2 separate regions of the Homo sapiens genome follow, and region 1 is linked to region 2. A link means that fine-mapping ties the variant in region 2 to the expression of a gene that starts in the linked region. Tissue or cell type: whole blood. Region 2 holds a variant in brackets; the other region holds the start of a gene. All regions are shown on one strand. Distances are from middle to middle.

Evidence for each region. PIP is the estimated chance that this variant, and not a neighbour inherited with it, causes the effect.
Region 1: UQCC1 starts here. The variant in region 2 is fine-mapped to the expression of UQCC1 in whole blood (TOPMed, PIP 0.90).

The regions. Positions count from the first base shown.
Region 1 is chr20:35,408,835-35,414,482 of GRCh38, forward strand. It overlaps UQCC1 (ubiquinol-cytochrome c reductase complex assembly factor 1), which reads right to left and starts at 3,139. Exons shown (of 10, transcript NM_018244.5): 1 at 3,106-3,139. The coding sequence starts at 3,129. RefSeq lists enhancers at 2,471-3,294, 2,885-2,984, 3,045-3,194, 3,295-4,117, 3,325-3,374.
Region 2 is chr20:35,327,319-35,332,966 of GRCh38, forward strand. All of the region lies in intron 7 of UQCC1 (ubiquinol-cytochrome c reductase complex assembly factor 1), which reads right to left. Among named protein-coding and RNA genes, the nearest start is that of FAM83C, 38 kb to the left of the region's middle. The variant A/G (reference allele first, on the strand shown) is at 3,111.

The DNA.
Region 1 (5,648 bases), 82 kb after region 2:
ACAGAGCGAGACCCTATCTCCAAAAAAAAAAAAAGAGAAAATTCTGACACATGCTACAACATGGATGAATCTTGAGGACATTACGCTAAATGAAATAAGCCAGTCACAAAAGGTCAAATACTGTATGATTCCACTTATATGAGGTACACAAAGTAGTTAAACTCACGGAGACAGAAAGTAGAATGGTGGCTGCCAGGGGCTGGGGAGAAAAGACTATAGAGAGTTATTAATAGGTTCAGAGTTTCAGTTTTATAAAATGAAAATAATTCTGTGGATAAGGGTGGTAAAGATGGCACAACAATGTAAATGCACTCAATACCACAGAACTGTACACTTAAAAAGTTTCAAAGGTGGCCAAGCACAGTGGCTCATGCCTGTAATCCCAGCACTTTGGGAGGCCAAGGCGGGCAGATCACCTGAGGTCAGGAATTCAAGATCAGCCTGGCTAAAATGGTGAAACCCCATTTCTACTAAAAATACAAAAAATTAGCTGAACGTAGTGGCACGTGCCTGTAATCCCAGCTACTCAGGAGGCTGAGGCAGGAGAATCGCTTGAACCCGGGAGGCAGAGGTTGCAGTGAGCCAAGATCACGCCATTGCACTCCAGCTTGCGCAACAAGAGCAAAACTCCGTCTCAGAAAAAAAAAAAAAAGTTTAAAAGGTAAATTTTGTTACATGTATTTTACCACAACTTTTTTTTAATTTTCTAAAGTACAGGGTGGCTTTCTGCAATTTTTACTATTTCCAAAGAAAAGCAGAAATGATCAGCAATGCCCAGGACAACTCATAAAAACCATAAGCATGTCCAGTTCCACTGATCAAATGTCCAGGCTCTCTGCTGTAGTCATTCAACAATAGCAGTGTTTTAGTTTCCTCCTCCTTCCCAAAACCATCACTGGAGAAGGGAAAATATTGGCTGACAAGACAAAAAGAGGAAAAAATAAAGCAAGACTAACAAGAATGTTTCAGGAATACTTCTTTTTTTTTTTCAGACAGAGTTTCACTCTTTCACCCAGGCTGGACTGCAGTGGCACAATCTCAGCTCACTGCAACCTCCGCCTCCTGGGTTGAAGCAATTCTCGTGTCTCAGCCTCACGAGTAGCTGGGATTACAGGCGCCCACCACCAGGCCTGGCTAATTTTTGTATTTTTAGTAGAGACAGGGTTTCACCACGTTGGCCAGGCTGGTCTTGAACTCCTGGCCTCAAGTGATCCACCTACCTCAGCCTCCCAATGTGCTGGGATTACAGGTGTGAGCCACGGCACCTGGCCAGGAATACCTCTCTGTGGTTCAGTTTTCTTATCTGTAAAATAGAGGAAATAACACGCCCTCCTTTCCAAAGGGATGTTATAAGGATTAGGTAAGTATTTTAAAGTGCTTAGCACGTAGTAAGTGCCCTATAAAATGATAGTTGTCAGGCCAGGCTCGGTGGCTCATGCCTGTTATCCCAGCACTTTGGGAGGCCGCAGGAGGCGGATCATGAGGTCAGGAGTTCGAGACCAGTCTGGCCAACATGGTGAAACTCCATCTCTACTAAAAATACAAAAGTTAGCCAGGTGTGGTGGCAGGCGCCTGTAATCCCAGCTACTTGGGAGGCTGAAGCAGGAGAACTGCTTGAACCCAGGAGGCAGAGGTTGCAGTGAGCCGAGATCACACCGCTGAACTCCACCCTGGGTGACAGAGCGAGACTCCATCTCAAAAAAAAAAAAAATACAAAAATTAGTCAGGTGTGGTGTGGTGCATGCCTGTCATCCCAGCTACTCGGGAGGCTGGCACAGGAGAATTGCTTGAACCCGGGAGCAGAAGTTGCAGTGAGCCCGAGATGGCACCACTGCACTCCAGCTTCGGCGACAGAGCAAGACTCTGCCTCAAAAAAAAAAAAAAAAAAAACAAAACCCTAAAGGGTGGCAGGGGAAGGATTAAAAAAAAAAAAAAAAAAAAAACCACTAAATTCAGAACATTCTAATTGCCATTTCCCCAGCAGTCCTCATTTCTGAATCAATTTCTGGCCTGAAATCAAACAATCACTTCACCAGGTGAATCTTTCTGGCAGTTACAGGGGCTACTCTACAAATAAATATTTACTGAACAGCAGTCGAGGGTACCTCACTCTGCTAGGCTGGCAAGGAATACAAGAAGTAAAACTGTCGTCCTTGTAAGACATATATAAAAAGATCAAAAACACAAATGTAAAATAACAATTCAGAAGTTACCTAGACACAGGAATAGACCATGTCTACTATGAAAAACAGTGTCTTTGACCCAGTTTTTGAAGACTCGCTAAAACTATACACTCTCCCATCCCTCCATGATTAAAAACTAAGCTCTGTATCCTAACGTTTTTTCTGCTGCCACTTTCTTTTCTCCTTTAATTGCTAGAGAAAAGAGTATGCTAGAAGGGTCAGGACTAAATCTCAAGAGGTGCAGTAGTTTCACACACGGGTGCTAAAGAGTCTGGTAGTCTTTCCTTACTTCATTCATTTATTCAACAAGTAATCATTTAACACCTATGATGTGCCAGACACCATGCTAGGCAAAGTGAAAACGACGGAGACAGACATGACTCCAATTCTCACGCAGCTTTCAATCTAATAATCTATATTCCACTTAACTGTACAGTTAAGAACTGACTTATTACCTATGAAAGAAACCCTGAGAATCTCAGAATCTAAAGGGACTGCAGGAGATAAATGTCCTCGTTTTTCACATAGGGTCAATGAGGCCCAAAAGTGACTTGCTTAAAGTCACTATGCATCAGTGACAGTCAGGGACTAGAACCCAGGCCTCCTGAAACTCCAATCAGTGTCCTACATGCTCCTCTCCCTGAGGGGAAGCAGGTACATGGGGGAGGGAAGGAAAAGTAAACCCCATCAAATAAAGGCCAGATGTCAGTCTTCCCCTTCTCGAAAGATGGGGGAGCTAAGGTCAAAACGGGGTAGGAAGAGGTCGGAAGCTGCCTCAGTTTCCCCACGGAAAAGCGGCCACTCAGCCTAGCTATAACACAGGCTTCCCTCCTGCGATTCCTTCCAATTCCTCCCGCCCTGCCTTGTCGAACTCCAACCCGGGACCCAGAGAGCTACCGTAGAAAATTACTCCTTCACTCACAAGGACTCGCACCAGCAACGCCATGTTCCTCAATAACCATTTCCGGGTGAAGAGTGAGTTTCCGGTGTCCCCTTTTCTACGTCCTCCTTTTGCCGGCGAAAGACTGGCAAGGGGGGCGCAGGCGCAAAGAGGTCGCTACGCGCACGCGCTGTTGTTTTCTCGGCTGTGCACCAGGCTGTCGTGCCCGGGCACGCTCTCCCTGCTGTCTCCCCCACTACACGTAACAGTGGTTCAAATCCTTCCCCCACGCCTGTCTCCTTGACCCCAGACCTCGGGGCTTCTCATATCCCTCTCTTTATTCCCCACCTAACCCAGCCTCACTCCTCAGCCCCTCCTTCCCAAACTCCACCCCAACACTTTTCAATGGAGGTTGAAAAGAACAGGACTTTAGGAAATCCCAATCTTTAGAAAGAGCCAGAAGACCGGGCGCGGTGGCTCACGCCTGTAATCCCAGCACTTTGGGAGGCCGAGGCGGGCGGATCACCTGAGATCAGGAGTTCGAGACTAGCCTGGCCAACATGGCAAAACCCCGTCCCTAACTAAAAATACAAAGAAAGTAGCCGGGCATGTTGGTGTGTGCCTGTAATCCCAGCTACTCTGAAGGCAGAGGTTGCAGTGAGCCGAGATCGCGCCACTGCACTCCAGCCTGGGCGACAGAGCAGGACTGGACTCTGTCTCAAAAAAAAAAAAAAAAAAAAAAAAAAAAAAGCCAGAGAAGGAGGCTAAGATAAAAGAATACGGGGGATACCAGACTCCTGAAAGTCAAGGCAAGAAGGCGGTCATGTGCCGATCTGAAGCCTGGTAGAGGAAGAAACTTTTGGGATTTGTGGTTGGTTGGTTGTTTAAGGGAAACATCTTTGCATATTGATAGGAAAAGATTAGTGAAGAGTATACAGGGCCGTGCCCGGTGGCTCATGCCTGTAATCCCAACACTTTGGGAGGCCGAGGCAGGTGGATTGCCTGAGGTCAGGAGTTCAAGACCAGCCTGACCAATATGGTGAAACCCCGTCTCTACTGAAAATACGAAAAAAATTAGCCGGGCATGGTGGCGTGTGCCTGTAATCCCAGCTACTTGGGAGGCTGAGGCAGGGAATCGCTTGAACCCGGGAGGCAGAGGTTGCAGTGAGCTGAGACTGGGGCACTGAACTCCAGCCTGGGTGACAAAGCGAGACTCCGTCTCAAAAAAAAAAAAAAAAAAAGAGTATACAGGAGAATCAATCAAAGAGGCAAGGAGCTTCTTGAGGAAAGTGGCAGAGAACGGCCTTGGTAGAAGACTCCTCTTCCATTACATCCCAAGAGAAGAGAAGACAAAGTACTGGTGCTTTGGGGGTTGAGGGAGCAGAGGGGCAGGATGTTGAAGGACTTCTTTCATTTCATTCAGTCAACAAAGACCTATTGAGTCTTCCCTATGTGCTGAACACAAGACATACTGGCTTCATGGAGTTCTTAGACTGGTGGGGGAGGCATAGGAACCCAGTGAAAAAAATTAAAACTGGGGAGCTACTTTGGTTAGGTTGGTAAGGCCTCTCCAAGAAAGTGACATGTAAGATGAAATCTAAAGGAAGAAGAGGAGCTAGTCATGGGAAATAACTTCACTCGACTATTTTTTTAATTAAATTTATTGATTTTTATTAATTGACAAAAAATATATATTGTGTACAACAGGATGTTTTCTTTTTTCTTTTTTTTTTTTTTTTTGAGACAGAGTTTCACTCTTGTCGCCCAGGCTGGAGTGCAGTGGCTCAATCTCGGCTCACTGCAACCTCCACCTCCCAAGTCAAGCGATTCTCCTGCCTCAGACTCCCAAGTAGCTGGGATTACAGATGCGCACCACCACGCCTGGCTAATTTTTGTGTTTTCAGTAGAGACGGGGTTTTGCCATTTCGGCTAGGACGGTCTCAAACTCCTAACCTCAGGTGATCCACCCACATCGGCCTCCGAAAGTGCTGGGATTACAAGAGTGAGCCACCGTGCCCCCGGCCAGGATGTTTTAAAATATGTATACATTGTGAAATGGCTAAGTCAAGCTAATTAATATATGCATTACCTCATATTTTTGTGCTGGAAATGTTTAAAATATGTTCTTTAAGCAATTTTCAAGAATACAATACATATTCATAGTGGGTATAGTCACCATGTTATACAATAGATCTTTTCTTTTTTTTTTTGAGACGGAGTTTCACTCTTGTTGCCCAGGCTGGAGCGCAATGGCGTGATCTTGGCTCACTGCAACCTCTGCCTCCCGGGTTCAAGTGATTCTCCTGCCTCAGCCTCCTGAGTAGCTGGGATTACAGGCATGCGCCACCACGCCCAGCTAATATTATATTTTAGTAGAGACGGGGTTTCTCCATGTTGGTCAGGCTGGTCTCGAACTCCCGACCTCAGGTGATCCGCCTGCCTTGGCCTCCCAAAGTGGCCTCCTGAACTTATCTCTCTTAACTGAAATTTTGTATCCTTTGACAAACATCTCCTCAGCCTCTAGTAACCACCATTCTACTCTCTACTTCTGTGTGTTCAACTTATATTCCACATATGAGAGAAAT
Region 2 (5,648 bases):
CTGCTGTGTCCTAACTGCTCACTGTTCAGAGCTGTACAATTGCCAAAATACTGACCCAATGGTTATCTGAGAAAGAGGCTGTTCCCTGCTGAAGACATGAGGAAGCAAAGGCTCAGAAAGGTCAAGTGACTCACCCAATTATCACTTGGCTAATAAATGGTCAAGAGGTTCACAGAGACAAGGTCTTCTGGCTCCTAGTCCAAGTTTTTTTGTTTGTTTTAAGGCTCAAACAGAATTGCCACTCAGTGGATAGTTTGTACATTCCTGTAGAAGCATCCTGGGAATGGCTGAGCCTGGATCCCAGGTAGAAGCCATATGATCATTCTTACTTAAGTAGTGAGGTGGTCAAGGTTGAGGCCAAGAGTGAGGTTCAGATATCCCTTAAAATGGAATTGACAGAGCCGGGTGCAGTGGCTCATGCCTCTGTAATCCCACCACTTTGGGAGGTTAAGGCAGGCAGATCACCTGAGGTCAGGAGTTTGAGACCAGCCTGGCCAACATGGTGAAACCCCTTCTTTACTAAAAATACAAAAATTAGCTGGGCATGGTGGTGGGTGCCTGTAGTCCCAGCTACTAGGGAGGCTGAGGCAGGAGAATTGCTTGAACCAGGAGGCAAAGATTGCAGTGAGGTGAGATTACGCCACTGCAATCCAGCCGGGGCAACAGAACAAGACTTTGTCTCACAAAAAAAGGAAAAAAAAAAAAAAAAGCATGGAACTGACACAGCCTGTGAGTTCTGAGAGTGACTCCATCTTTATAGGGTAATTCTCTTTTGTCCTCTTTTCTCAGTAAAATGTTCTTAGAAAGGTATTTTATCCAAAGGAAAGAGACAAACTCAGTTAGAATGCTGTATGTTAAAGAGATGATCTCTTTGGTGTTCTGTATTTAAGTCCCAACTCAGACCTAGGAAACGCACTGAAATCTAAGTAAATTTTGGGCCCCAACAGCCCTGTTTCCCCACCTGGTGAGTCTGAAAGATTAATCACTCTGAGCCTCAGTTTTTCCATCACAACTATGCAAAACCACCTTTCCTTTTTCCTTTTCATATTAACAGATGAAAATGCCTAACAGTAAGTAAATTAGTAGTGGCAAACATCTATTTCACTCTCAGGCATTGTTTAAAGAACCTCACATGTGATAACTCATTTATCCCTCACAATGCTACAAGCGATGTAAGGTGGGTATTACAGTTATGTCTATTTTACGGAGAGAAAACTGAGGCATAGAAAGGAAACAGGCATAGAGACCTTGCCCAAGGTCACATGGCTAGGGCAGGATTTGAGTCCAAACTGGCTTCAGTATGTGAGCACTCTCAACTACTCTGTGATACTGCATTGGAAAGGAGGTTATAAACTCAACCCAATCCCCCACTTGGAGATGAGAGCCTGGAAGTCTCTGAAGCTTCTCTCAGGACCTTGGGGCTCACCTACTCTCCTGCCTCATCCTCCCATTACACTCAGCCCTGCCCTGGGATAACTCCTGGAAGAAGCCTGCAGTGAACACAAAACAAAAAAGCAAGTGAACTCATATCTTTCTCGTTCGTCTGTTTCGTGTGGAAGTGAATCCAGGAAAGATTCAACTTCCTTTCTCAGCATAAACTAGATTGTAAGCCCTGTAAGATCACTTATCTCTGGTATATTATCTACCAACCACATTCAGGGATTAGCATGTGGCGAGAGACAAAAATGTTCCTTGAATAAATGAATGAAACAATTCTTAATAAAACCATACAAATTAATAATGCTACTGGATCTAGAGGAAATACATTCAATATTGCCTTCATCAAATGTATTCAGCACTACCCAGGCATCAAGCACTGTTTTAGGAGCTGAGGCTACAGCAGTAAACAAGAGACAATTCCCGAACTCCGGGAGTTTAGGATGATTAGTCAGGCTGCTGAATGATTTGCAGAATGAATCTGAGATGAAGAGAGTCAAGAGGCAGGAGGACCAGTGAAGAAGCAGCCGACAGTGAGTTTAGGTGAGAGGTCAGGACTGGATCTGAGCATCAGTAGGACAGTTGAGGCCCTGATAGTGGTTGTTTTAAAGAAGGGCTCCTTATAGTTCCTCCTGCTCCTTTGAGAACCAGGCACGTCACATTGATGGCAAGGATCACTGACATTCAGAAAGACCAGCTAAAGAGAGGACAATGAACATGGAAAAACAAGTCCCTCCACTCTAGCTGGGCCCCTTCAGCTCCAACCAACCCCACAGGGCCATTCACTCAGCATTTTGGGGGAAACAAAGTGAGAAAAGAGTGTTACAGCTGCCTCATCAATGGATCCAGAAATACTCATGGCACACCCAGGGCAGCTGAAAGAAACATCTGTCTCTACTGTATCCTAGGTCTGACCTCAGAGCCTCCAGAACTTTTTTACATAGCCCCACCCAGATCCTGGCGGAGCTACTGCCCTCTGGTGGTACCCAATGCAGGGGTTAAGCCCACAGGAGAAAAGAGTCTTGTGGTAGGACATGGAGTGAGAGGCATAGTCAACCCCAAGAGCTCGTCACAGTGCCTGTATGTCTTACTACTGCAACCACTGCTTTTTCCAAAGACGCTATTTACAGAAAACTCTGGTTAAAATGCAAGAGTTATCTGGGACCATTAAAACAGATCCTGTTGGCAACCCTTAACGATTTGGCATGAATTTAATCAGGTAAACTGCAGTGTAAGTATAGAATTGATTCTAAGAAGATAGGGTTAGGAATAGACTCTGTGAGTTCACTCACTCATTCACCATTCAACCAATATTGGATGGAGGCTTACCATGTGCTAAGCACTGTGCTAGACACTGGAATGCTGACCTTAAGAGAAAAGGATCAGGAGGTCTTTGATTGGAGGCTTTTCCCAGCAACACAAAATGCAGGGTGTGTGTAGTGGCTCTAGAGAACAGCAAAGATGATAGTATCAAGTAACGAAAAGAGCAACAGAATCAATCAAGAGAAGTGAGTTTTAGTCTCTGCTACTACCGCTACTATATGACACTGACCAAGCCTTTTTCCTGACCAGGACTGAGTGTCCTCACTTGGAAAGGGTTGAATTAGGATCATCTTTGTGGCTGTCAAGCTTCTAGGAGCTTGGCGGCCACTGAAATGATTAGGAGATGGCAT[A/G]AAATAAAAACACTGACTGCTTGGCAATTCTGACCAGCTAGGGCTAGCCCTGGGTGGGGCTTCCTGCCATCAGCCAGGGCAATCTAAAATTCCTTTACATAGTTCCTGAGGATCATCACCAAGTGAGATTCTTCTGACATCCATACCCAACCACTTCATCAGACGAGATACCCCTAGTACGTTATGAACCCCACATTTGTCCCCAACTACCCTAGTCTCTTCTGGTCCCTTTGAACTGAGGCTATTAGGGACGGAGCCAGTTCTTCCAGTGCTACAGGGCAAGAGAGGCTTGGAGAAAAGTAGAAAGTTTTGCAAACTGTGTTCACTCTTGGAAATTCTACCCTGGGCTGGAAAATTTTTATCTCATGGATTTTTTTTCAAGCAGGAAAGGCCCTTAGAAATAACCTGGTCCAGGCTCTGCATTGGAGCCTGCTGGTTAATTGTGGAACTAAGTCTAACTCCACTCTTGTAGCTCCAAGATTGGTGAGTGTTTTTCAGTTCTCCCACTGTCCTTCTAGAGGGAGGCTCTTCTCTGGCAGCCAACTCACCTTGGGACCTAAAGCACAGGAGACGATAAACACCTTCTGTCTTTGAAGGAGAAGGAGTATAGCCACAAACACCTATCGAAAATGCCAAAGACAACAAGGTTCATTTGAAATCTGAAGAATCTTAGCAAAACGGTATGGGACAGGGATGAAAAGAAGAGCAGGAGACAGAAGCCTGCTCAGCGCTTAACAGGAATCATCTCCTACTTGCCCCATAACCATACACATACCACAAGCCAGCTGATTCCTAACCCCAGCAGCTAAACTGCCCAAGGCCTAGGAAAGGGGGCAACACACACAGTTTACACCTTTTATTATTCTGATCAAAATTTCTCTCCTGGGAGCAGAAAGGGGTCAAAAGTCCAACACCAAAAATATATATCTTTATAAGTCATGGGCAAAGAAGTATTACAGCAGACAGTTATTTAAAAAAAAAAAAAAAAGCTACGGTGAACAGAGCAGAGTAGGAGGTGTGAGAAAACTCACTCCAAGTAATTTATTCACTGGGAACCACAAAGGGCTTTCCCAAGAACAGCAAAAACACCATTAATTTCTCCAGTACCCTCCTTTCAAAGGGCTCCAAACACTTCACACATATCGTTTTAAATTGTCCTCAAAGGCTCCAAAATAAGGGGTTACTATTTCCCCAGGCACAGATGGAGAAACTAAAGCATTTATGCCCACCCTGCTCTGCCCAAGTCATCCTAAAAGATTCAGCCAACATCAACTGAGTGCCTGCTATGTGCCTTACTCATGCCAGGCAGAACAGGAGACGGATGAAAGATAGGATCTTTGTCCTCCAGAAAGCCAGAATCCAGTGTGGTGTCACAGATGCACCTATAAATCCCTTCAAGATATGACAGCTTATGCTAGGTGCTATTGAAAATGTCCAAATACAGCATCCTGATAGCTCCCATTTATCAAGTACTTAATATGTGCCAAACACTGTGCTAAGCCATATTGTTTAAGTCACATAACTGTGCGTGACTTACCTTATAGAGGATGGAATGGAGACAATGAGAGGTAAAGAGACTTGCCTAGGATCTCAAAGCAACATTGTGGCAGAGCAGAGATTAGAACCTATGTCTGTCTGGCTCCAAAGACCACATGACAGGAAAAGAACTGTTTGGAAAACTGGGCACCGGCCTCTCAACTTTCTAGCACTGAATGCCACACTTTAGAGGCGAACAGCAGAACACACAGGGGCCCTCACTAGATTTTGGGGGAATGGCCTGTTTCCTGGGCCCAGAATTGTATGTGCATGTACTAACTGGGATTCTCCATCATGGGGACATCTGAAGCCAAAGGTAGGTGTGTCTTCCAAAAGGGAACAGAGCTCTCTCTGGGTAAAGGAGAGCTGAAAGGTCCTGAGCTCTTCTTGCTCCTTTGGTAAGTACTGAAAATGGAACAGGACTAGAAGGTATGGGATTCCCATGCTGGCTTTAACAGAAGGTTCACAGCCTGCAGGAAGGCATGGTGGCTGCAGTGCACATGCAGTACGGTATCCTTTTCTCAGAGCCAGAGTAGAACTCTTGCTGGGGAAGGAGTCCTCTGCTGGAGAAGGGCCTGGCTTAGTGACAGCTCTGCAGAGCTCACCTGGTGGCAGCAAGTGCTGCCTCTTTTGCCAAAGCCCCATTTTGGAGGCCAAGGAAGAAAATGCCAGACTTGGAGAAAGAAGAGCTCCCCACACCAGACAGGTTACAAAGAAAATGGTCAGTCCTGGGGAATGCCTAGGTCTTAGCAAGGGCTGGGCTAATAAATCGCTCTATTTTAAGCCCACAGGACATAAGACAGATGCGAGAAAGAGAATGTCCTCCAAACTCTGAGAGCAAAGTTGAGCCTGGAAATAGGAAACCTAATCCCCAGCCTAGCATTCTTCCCACTTACCTCAAGGCATCCTTCTGTAATCGTTTCATATCTTAATTTCAACCTAATAAAACAACAACAAGAACAAAAACCCTTTGATGGAGCCAGGTACTTCTGTGTATTATTA